Regions from separate parts of the Homo sapiens genome. Here region 2 is linked to region 1. A link means that fine-mapping ties the variant in region 1 to the expression of a gene that starts in the linked region. Tissue or cell type: whole blood. Region 1 holds a variant in brackets; the other region holds the start of a gene. All regions are shown on one strand. Distances are between the middles of the regions.

Region 1 (5,147 bases):
GAAGAGGGAAAACCCAGGGACCCTAAGCCTGATGAAAGGCAGCTATCCTGGTCCCTGAGGAGCCTGGACGGTGCTCCCACTGTGGCCTTGAGCCTGGTCCTGGCCAGCTCCTGTAAAATATACCCTACAAATTAATACATAAATCCTACAAATTAGTATATTGAAAAGTTTGTACCTTTATTTTGTGTTTTAGTAAGAATATAAAATAAATAAATAAAATAAATATAAAATAAAATAAAATTAGTTGTATTAGTTAGGGTGACTGCTGTAACAAATAGACCCCCCAATGCCTGATGGCTCAAAAACAATTGAAGTTGATTTCTACCCACCCCAAAAATCCTAGCCAGTGCAGGTCAGCAGAGGCAGGCAGGGAGGACGGGAGGCCGGGCTCCCACAGTCATTCCGGGACCCGGCTGCCAGGGGCTCTGCCAGCTTCAGCTCAGGGCTTCCGAGGCTGCCCTGGGCCTTGGCGCCCAGACAGCTGGAGGAGGAAGGATCTCACAGGGCAGAGCTCTCCGGTCCAGGTCCGAGAGCCATGGTGTAACTTCCACTGAGACGCCGTTGCCTAGAGCTGGTGCCCATGGCCAGACCCCTGCAGGGCAGATGGGAAAATGCAGGCTAGCTGTGTGCTAGGGATGGAGGTGAAGTGGGTTTTGAGTAGGGTGGCCCATGTAATTCATCCTTCAAACCAGGACCTTGCTAAGAGTGAAAGGTGTGATCAAGTTGTGCCAGAAAGGCAGGCACCAACTGAGACAGGACAAACGGTCACCCTGGGTTTGTGAGCAAAAACAGGCAAAGACAAACAAGACAGTGTTCTTATTTTCCTCATTGCCTGTAGAAGAGGAAAGCATGCGACCCGGCCTGTTCTACGCTTGGTTGTATTTCTCACACTTGTCAATATACCCGGGTCTGTTTATGCAGACAGCCTCTACTGAGTGGTTGTTTTTGTTTAACTTTTGCACAATGAACCTTAATGCATCTTTGTTTATTGAGCCAGTTCCTACAGATGGACACAAGTCATTTCAGCCTTTTCAATCACAAACAATGGTGCGGTGTTTTATACTGCACAGACATCATTTTAGGTCCAGTTTAAATAGTAGTAGTGTAGGCCAGGTGCGGTGGCTCACGCCTGTAATCCCAGCACTTTGGGAGGCTGAGGTGGGTGAATCACCTGAGGTCAGGAGTTCGAGACCAGCCTGGCCAACATGGTGAAACCCCGTCTCTACTGAAAATACAAAAATTAGCTGGGTGTGGTGGTGCGTGCCTGTAGTCCCAGCTACTCGGGAGGCTGAGGCAGGAGGATTGCTTGAATCCGGGAGGCGGAGGTTGCAGTGAGCTGAGATCACGCCATTCACTCCGCCTGGGCAGCAGAGTGAGACTCCATCTCAAAAAAATTAAATACATAAATAAATAAATAGTAGTAGTCATGAAATGAACACTTATGCCTTTACCATCTGTGAACATATGCATCTCAGATTAATGCATTATAGAGTTTTTCTTATTTCTGTACTTTATATAAATAAGATCAGATTCAAGGTATTCTTTTTGTTATTTTTCTTTTCTTTCTCTATTTTTTGATTTGGGATCGTTCTCTGTCACCCAGGCTGGAGTGCAGGGGCACAATCTTGGCTCACTGCAACCTGGAACTCCTGGGCTCAAGTGATCCTCCCGTCTCAGCCTCTCGAGTAGCTAGGACTATGGCCATGTGCCACTACACCCTCTAAGTTTTCTTTTTCTTTTTTTTTTTTCTGTAGAGATGGAGTCTTGGTATGTTGGCCAGGCTGGTCTCAAATTCCTGGGCTCAAGTGATCCTCCCGCCTCAGCCTCCCGGATTGCTGAGACTGCAGGCCTCTTTCGGGTGGTCATTCTGGCTGGCTGCAGGTATTCTTTTTAAATTCTGTGTTCTCCTCACTGTTGCTCAAAATTATGATTTTTGACACATGCGTCCATTGAATGAATGTTAGATTCCATTGAATGACTGTACAGTTTAAAAAATAGTTGAGTTTACTTTTGAGGGTTCTTTGGACCATGGCCAGTGTTTTGTGTTTTGGACCGTGCTGTACAGACACTCTCTGTCCTTTCGTGCCCGTGTGCAGCGTTTTCACTGTGGTTACGCCCGACAGCAGATGTGCTTCCTCTCAGGACAGGTATGTATTTCCTGTTGCTTCCCATTCTCCTCTTGACTTTCTTTTGCATTTCAGGCTAAGCAGCTTTTCACGTCTTTGCAATTTGAGTTTCCTCATTTGTAAATGCCCCTCTGAGTCTTTTGCTCATTTTCCTATTATATTGTTTATCTTTTCCTTATTAGATTAGCGGGGTTCTTTCTGTATTTTGAATACAAATTCTGTGTTGCTCATTATTGTTGAAATATTGTCAGCTTGTGACTTGTCTTTTCCCTCTTTATGACGTCTTTTTTTACTTTTATTTTTTATTTATTCTTATTATTTTTTATTTTTTAGTAGAGATGAGGTTTCGCCATGTTGGCCAGGATGATCTTGAACTCCTGGCCTGAAGTGATCCCTTTGCTTTGGTTTCCCAAAGTGCTGGGATTACAGGCATGAGCCGTAGCACCCGGCCTTTATGGTGTCTTTTGATAACAGAAGTTCATAAATGTAACGCGGTCAGGCTGGTCGATCTTGTCCTTAGGGTTGGTGCTTTTTGGTTTTGTGCTTGAGGATCCTCCCCCAGCTGTGGTCCCAAGCACCCCCTCACCCAGAGCAGGCAGTGACTTGGATGTTTGGGTAGCGAGCTCTGGGTCAAGTTCCTGGCCCACACCTGCCAGGAACACTCAGCTCTGACTTGCCGTGGAGCCCCCTGTGCCTACTTTGCTGTCCACCCTGGGTGGGTGTGCCCCTGATGCACTGCTGTCAGCTTCCCCTTTGGATCTGGAATTTTATTTTTCTGTCTAACGTGCTTGTCCCCGGTTGGACTGGCCTGTATTCCTTGGGCAACCCAGCAGGTGGCTTGGCCTTTGGACAATTAGCTCCTCTGCTCCCCTGAGGAAGGGAAGGAAAGCCCCAGCGAGTGGTGGAGTTGGCTTCCGAGACACTTTCCAGTGACAGGTCTCTCCGGAGCTG[G/A]GGTCTCAGGGCAGGGCCTGCAGGGAAACGTGGACTCACTGGGGAGGAAGTATAGCTTGGCTCTGGGTTTGACGACAATGACGATGGTGACGATGATGATGACGACGATGCTATTTTGTTGTTGTTTTGGGGTTCACAGGAGCTGAGAGGAAGAGCAAGGGTTTGCAAATGAGGAAGAAAGCTGGGAAGTGGTTTCATGCATTTCCTCCTCTCTCCACGTGCCAGAAGGTGCCACTCGGAGGCTGTCTTCCCAGCCTCTTGAGGACAGGCAGAAGTCCTTGTGGCCTCAGTTAAAGGAAAGAAGAGAGAAAGAAAAGAATGAAAGCAAGAAAAGGGGCCAGGAGGGAGTGTGAGCTGCAATCCCAGCATCCTGACATGTGCCCTCATGCCTGGTCACATGCAGGCACGTTGCACGCCCGCTGGGCACAGGCCGCTTGTGTACCTTGGTCACTTATATTCTTAACAGCCATCCAGGACCCCGTCGAGTGCATAATACAGCCGTGTACTAATATAGCCATCCTTAGCAGCCGTCCGTGCACTAATACAGCCGTGCGGGTGGGCTGCCGTGCGCTAACCTAGCCGTCCTTTTGATGTTGGGCATGGGGTCATTTCCAGGGTCAGGTTAGATGTTCTAGACAGACCCAGCAGTGGGTAGCTTTAACTAGTACTTTAGTCCTTCCTTTCCATTATTTCCTTAAGCTACATTCTCATAAATGAAATTTCTGGGTAAATGATGAATATTTTTATGGTTTTAAAAAGACAGCATCAAATTTCTTTTCAAGGACAGGTGCTAATTTGGAAAATCCCAAATACATGTATCTATTAGAGATGGCATCCTGCTATATTGCCCAGGCTGGTCTTCAACTCCCGGCTTCAAGCAGTCCTCTTGCTTTGGCCTCCCCAAGTGCTGGAACTACAGGCGTGAGCCACAGTGCCTGACCCCTCGTAATTTTTAAAGATAGAGTGGGGCAGGAAAAGCTCACCAGAATGTCTCTCCAGCCCGTGAAGGGCTCCAGTCTTGGTGTCTGGAAGGCTCTAATCAGCAGCTCTGTTTTTACGGGGCCAGGCTGGAGCAGACAGGAAGGCTTTATGCTATCTGACTGATAAGGTTGTCTGGGGACTGTTTCCACACCACCGGTTTCTGTGCTTGTTGCTGTGGGCTTGGGTCTGGGGACCTGGGACCTGGCACGGAGCTATGGGGGCTCTGACTGTCTCAGACCCTGCCTCTGCCATCTTAGAGCTCACACTTTAGGTAGGGGGGAATGAAGCAACCGGTGCTCTCTAAGCAGAGTCGGGAAGCCTCATGTACCCAGGGCCTTGCTTTGGCCTCTCAGGGGTCGCAGGCAAGACTGGCTTGGTCAGGCCCAGAGGGTGCCCTGGGAAGGTGGGCCTCTCAGTTCAGGCTGGAAGCCCAGCTAGGGTGGTCAGGCCCTGAGGGCTGGAGGTGTAGGTAGAAAGGTGCCCTCAGGGAAACAACAGAAACGCCCAGTCCAGTGGCAATAAAGCCCCAAGGACAGGCAGGCAGTGCAGGGCACCCCCAGGCCGCCAGCCCAGAACCTTTCCCACTGGGGTCTGGGCCTTTCCATGGGCAGACAGAGCCCCACGGGCCAGGGCTGAGGGATCCATTGTCCCCACACTAGCAGGGCCCCTGACCCACTCGCATCCAGCAAGCGCGGCTGACCTTTCTCTGGGTGCTTGGCCGGAATCCAAGCCCATTCTTCCGAGCACCTCAGAGGGGGGTCAGGGCCTCAGCAGGGACCTGATCAGGACCTGAGGGTGGACAGTTTCACTTTCCCTCAGATACAGGGTGGGAGGCTATTTGGGGACAGGAGCCCAAAAGGGCCTGTCTGCTCACTCAGACCAAAAGTGGGATAAAACCAAAACCACTTCCTGGGAGGACAGCGTCTAGGGTGTCAGAGCCCGACACCGCTGCCCTCCACGCCTGCCTCCGCTGAAGTGGGTTCTGGGGGCTCCGAAGGTCAGCAGGGTTCCGGACGCTTTCCTGGGACTGCCCCTCCCAGCTGTGCAGGCTCAGAGGCTCCTCCACCCACTCCAGCATCCACAACAACA
Region 2 (5,147 bases), 100 kb before region 1:
AAAGAGTCACACTCATGAACACAGAAGGGAAGTTAAGTGATCTGGGATTTTTGAACACATTTCTGAATACTGGTCTGGAATCACTATGGAGGACCGTTTAACGTGATCCAGCAGAAAGACTCATTTGGAGACAGAGCCGGACTCCCGGAGCCCCTCCAGGTGGAACTCACTCCACGCAGAGCTCAGACTCGGTCCCACACTCCTGATCCCTGATCCATCACAGCCCACCTCTTGGGCCACTCCTGTGCCATTGGGACTTTCATGGAATAACTACAGTTAAGGGCTTCCTTACAAGTGTTCCTGGTAACAGTTAATACCTCCCCTTCTTTTATGATGAGAAAAATGGTCAATGATTCCCTCAACAGAGAAGGCCAGTAGCACAGTGAAATCAAGAAGCCCGGAACATGAAAAGTCTTTCCTCAGCTCCCTGCAGTGAAATCCCTATAAATGCGAATCACCCTGCCTACTCCTTACCTTTAAAAATTACTTAGGGTGAGGGGGCTTTAGGATGAGGACAGCCTTGGCCTCCAGGGGGCTGTGGGGAAGGACGCATGTGTGTGCATTGGGGGCAGATGTTCCAGACCCTCGTTGTCCTCCCTGGCTCCTTGCTGGTATTGACTAGTGGGGCTGGGCATGGGACAGGCCTTCATACTGGGGGTACCAGTCCTGTCCAGCTGTTTGGGTCTCTGGCTGTCACTGAAGTTCTTGATTCCAGGTATTTGCTACTGGCTGTGAAATCCCCACTTAGGATAGCCTTGTCTCCTGAGCCAGGCCCCTTACTGGGACACTTTTGGATTCTTCCCCAGGAGAACTGCCTCAGCTCAACAATCCAGCTGCTCCTTCCAGATGTGCTAGAGCTTGCCCTCCTGCTCCTAGGCTGCATGCCGGAATTGGTCCCTGCCCCTGGCAGACTTCTACAGGACCTCAGTTTCTCTCTTCTCCTTCCAACCCTCTCTTGGCCTGGCATATCCCTCTTCTCCCAGAGGGAGTTCCCGTATGTCTTACTCTCCTTCTCCAGGGAATTGTAAGCCCTCAGGCTCAGCCTTTACAAAGAAAAGGGTATCCTTTCTACATTACGAAAGACCCCCATTAAGCCTGCAGGTGAGACAGGTGAGACTGTTAACCTAGGAACTGAGGGACAACTAGGAACCAGGATATTGAGGAGGACAAAATATTTGGCATCCTCAGAATATTATTCCCATCAGATATTTATATACTTTTTTTTTTTTTTTCCTTGAGACGGAGTTTCGCTGTTGTCGCCCAGGCTGCAGTGCAATGCAATGGCACGATCTCGGCTCACAGCAACCTCCACCTCCCGGGTTCAAGCGATTCTCCTGCCTCAGCCTCCCGAGTAGCTGGGATTACAGGCATGCACCACCACCCCCGGCTAATTTTGTATTTTTAGTAGAGTCGGGGTTTCTCCATGTTGGTCAGGTTGGTCTCGAACTCCTGACCTCAGGCGATCCGCCCGCCTCAGCCTCCCAGAGTGCTGGGTTTACAGGCGTGAGCCACCGCGCCCGGCCAGCTTTTCACTGGACACTAGTTTCGAAGAAAACTAGGTAAGTCTAAAGCAGGTTAGAAAATACTGAAATCGTTGAATATGCTACAAAATTGAACATCTGAATCTGGCCAGATTCGTACTTCATGTAAATCACTGTGAATGATGGGGCTGCTGAATTTGGGGGATCTGGTGACTCCTCGGCATTTGTGGTTTATGGTCTTAGTGGAAACCTTTTTCGATGGTTTTCGAGCCTGTAATTCATGGTTGTATGTTCTGTATTTTTCCCAAGACCACTGCTGGAATCCTGTATTCACTGCATAATGAGTATTTTATTTTTAGATGTGGATCACCCCTTAGGGAGGGGCTCTGTGGGAAGGTAGGTAATGAACTATTTTTAATATAAATCACAAGTGTCAAAGAAAGTGGTAATATCCAAAGAATAAACAAGAGTGACCACCATTCAGGTGCCGAGAAGGTATCTGAAGCTCCCACAGGCATTTTAAACTGTGTGATAGTATTTCAACCATTTGGTCAACAATGAAGAAAGATCCAAGGATTGCCCCAGGCATGTGTTTATTTGATTCAATGCAGGTAACTTCTCAGGCCCAGGGAAACACTTTGCCCTTCAAAAGTTTCATTAGAAAACCCCAATATACTGGTGACTAAGTAACAAGACTGAAACTCTACACAAACTTTCGTTGTATGGAGACCTCCGCTTTTGCTGCCTTAGCTGAAGTATTGCAGAGGAAATGTATAAAACTTAAAATCCAGAGTAGAGGATCTGGGACCCAAAATCCGTCTTTAGAAATCCACGGCACTTTTACAGACGGACTATATTAAAGTAGGGACAAAGTCCCAGGCTGGGGGTACTAGCCGGCTATCTGCCCACACAGTATGTAAATGAAAGTAGGGTTTACCATCCAGGGCATTAACTTCATTTTCCTTGTCTTCGAGATCCATTAAATGCTAGTACTGTATGAGAAGCGTGGACCTTAAGTATTAAAGATGGCTTTTTCTTCTTCTTCTTCTTATTTAGCGTAGAAACTAGCAACAGGGAACAAGGTAACTGAATTCACGGTCCACTCGCAGGCGCGCACGTCCCCAGGGCTCCGGGACGGCTGTTCCCTGCGTGCGGCCGCGGGACTGCGGACAAAGCTGCAGTGTGGTCGGGAGCGCGGGGCCGGGAGCGCGGGGCCGGCCCGGCGGCAGGAAGGGCGTGGCCGTGGGGTGCAGCGAGGACGGCCCGTGCGGGAGGAACGTGCGCAGCGTGGAGTCTGGGGGCCGAGAAGCCCCCACTGCAAGGCTGGCTCCCGAGATTCGCGCCCGGGCGCCGCGGTGCGGGAAGCGGCCGTCCTCGCGGGGACGCCCTTGCGCCGGGTGCTAGGTGCGGATCACGGGCAGCTCCGGCCCCGCGGGCGCCGGGCGGGGGCCCACGCCCCCTCCGCCCGCCAGCTCCAGTCGCAGACCGCGCGGGCGGGGCGCCCGAGAGGGCTTTTTTTTTTTTTGGTCAAACTTCGGCCACGTGAACCGCCCCTCATTCACTTTTGCGCCAATCGCGCGGCGCGGACGGATCCCGAGAGGGGCCACGGCTCGCCGCCGGCGGGGCCACTTCATAACGCGCCGTGCGTGACGTGAGGGGCTCCTGTTGCAATGGCGAGCTAAGCCGGAGGATGTGCAGCTGCGGCGGCGGCGCCGGCTACGAAGAGGACGGGGACAGGCGCCGTGCGAACCGAGCCCAGCCAGCCGGAGGACGCGGGCAGGGCGGGACGGGAGCCCGGACTCGTCTGCCGCCGCCGTCGTCGCCGTCGTGCCGGCCCCGCGTCCCCGCGCGCGAGCGGGAGGAGCCGCCGCCACCTCGCGCCCGAGCCGCCGCTAGCGCGCGCCGGGCATGGTCCCCTCTTAAAGGCGCAGGCCGCGGCGGCGGGGGCGGGCGTGCGGAACAAAGCGCCGGCGCGGGGCCTGCGGGCGGCTCGGGGGCCGCGATGGGCGCGGCGGGCCCGCGGCGGCGGCGGCGCTGCCCGGGCCGGGCCTCGCGGCGCTAGGGCGGGCTGGCCTCCGCGGGCGGGGGCAGCGGGCTGAGGGCGCGCGGAGCCTGCGGCGGCGGCCCGGCGGGCGGAGCGGCGCGGGCATGGCCGCGCGCGGCCGGCGCGCCTGGCTCAGCGTGCTGCTCGGGCTCGTCCTGGGCTTCGTGCTGGCCTCGCGGCTCGTCCTGCCCCGGGCTTCCGAGCTGAAGCGAGCGGGCCCACGGCGCCGCGCCAGCCCCGAGGGCTGCCGGTCCGGGCAGGCGGCGGCTTCCCAGGCCGGCGGGGCGCGCGGCGATGCGCGCGGGGCGCAGCTCTGGCCGCCCGGCTCGGACCCAGATGGCGGCCCGCGCGACAGGAACTTTCTCTTCGTGGGAGTCATGACCGCCCAGAAATACCTGCAGACTCGGGCCGTGGCCGCCTACAGGTGAGCCCCTGCTCCCCGGGCACCGCCTCCTGCGTCCGGCATCCCGGCGGCCGGCATCCCGGGTGCTCTCCTGGCTCTCGCCTCCGCCCGCTTCCTAGGCCCTTCTTGGGCTTCCGGCGGGATCGGGTTGCCTCTCGGGAGACGCCGGGCCGAGGGAGAAAAGATCAGAGGCGGGATGGTGAGCGCGGCGCTCAGGAACATGGCCTTTGGGGTCAGATGGACTAGTGTGGCCTCGCTGGGTGTACCTCTCACCCTGATGAAGGCACTTTAGCCTTTGCAAATCGAAGCTTCTCGTTAGAAGGGCCCGACAGATCGGGTCTCCCTCATAATGTTGGAAAACTCATAGCACAGTACCTGATAGTGGAGGCAGTTGGGGCTGATACTGGATTCCCTAAAATGTGCACCTTTGTCCTTGCAAAGCTGGAGCCCGTGTACGTTAATCTAGTTCTAGAACCTTTCCACATCATACTCTCACATTTCGCAGTTGGAGGCACTCCTATAAATGAAAGAGAATGCCCGCAGCATATTGGACCACACCAGTCTGTTGAGTACAGAGAGAGAGAACCTTGGGGAAAAGCAGTTCTTGGCCCTTGGTAGATTCAGTGGAAAACTGCATTCTGGTGTTAATTAGTTCAGCTTGGTGGTGTATGCATGTTATCCAGTAACTGGGCTCTAGTTGGCCAAATGAGTCATAAAAGCAGCTGGAATTGTGTTCAGGTTTAACAAAGGGATTAGCCAATGTAGTCTCTAGAAGGGAGATGATTTTGGAATGGCTGGCATGGTTAGAATCAGATTTGTATTGGAGTGAATTTGAAGTTGGAGAGGGTTGTAGACTCGATAAAGGGATTTGATGGAAACCCTATATGTGTGAAGTATAGAGACACTTACTGTATGGATAAAGTTTGGGTCTTATCCAGCCACAGAGCAAACCAATGTGGGGAATGGTTTTAGAGCATCAGTTGTCTGGTAATGAAATTTCAGAGCAGCCAGTGCTGAGCCAGGCTAAGCTGGTTGCTGTTTGTTCTTATAACCAATACCTTTACACTTCAGTTTTTAAATGCAGTCTTGGTCAGATTTTTCAGGCACTAGATGTTGTGAGGGGAAAAGCATATATGGTCTCCCTTGCCTTTAAGGGAGAAAGTAAAGGACTGAGAAAGAAGGTGAAAGTGGTCTTCAGTGACTGCCCCTTGAATGGCTT

The links. PIP is the estimated chance that this variant, and not a neighbour inherited with it, causes the effect.
Region 2: it holds the start of CHSY1, and the variant in region 1 is fine-mapped to the expression of CHSY1 in whole blood (TOPMed, PIP above 0.99).

What each region holds. Positions count from the first base shown.
Region 1 is chr15:101,148,454-101,153,600 of GRCh38, reverse strand. LRRK1-AS1 (LRRK1 antisense RNA 1) reads left to right here and starts at 1,762. Exons shown (of 3, transcript XR_001751724.2): 1 at 1,762-1,881. The variant G/A (reference allele first, on the strand shown) is at 3,078.
Region 2 is chr15:101,249,939-101,255,085 of GRCh38, reverse strand. CHSY1 (chondroitin sulfate synthase 1) reads left to right here and starts at 3,038. Exons shown (of 3, transcript NM_014918.5): 1 at 3,038-3,949. The coding sequence starts at 3,630. RefSeq lists silencers at 2,574-2,953, 3,124-3,433, 3,624-4,053.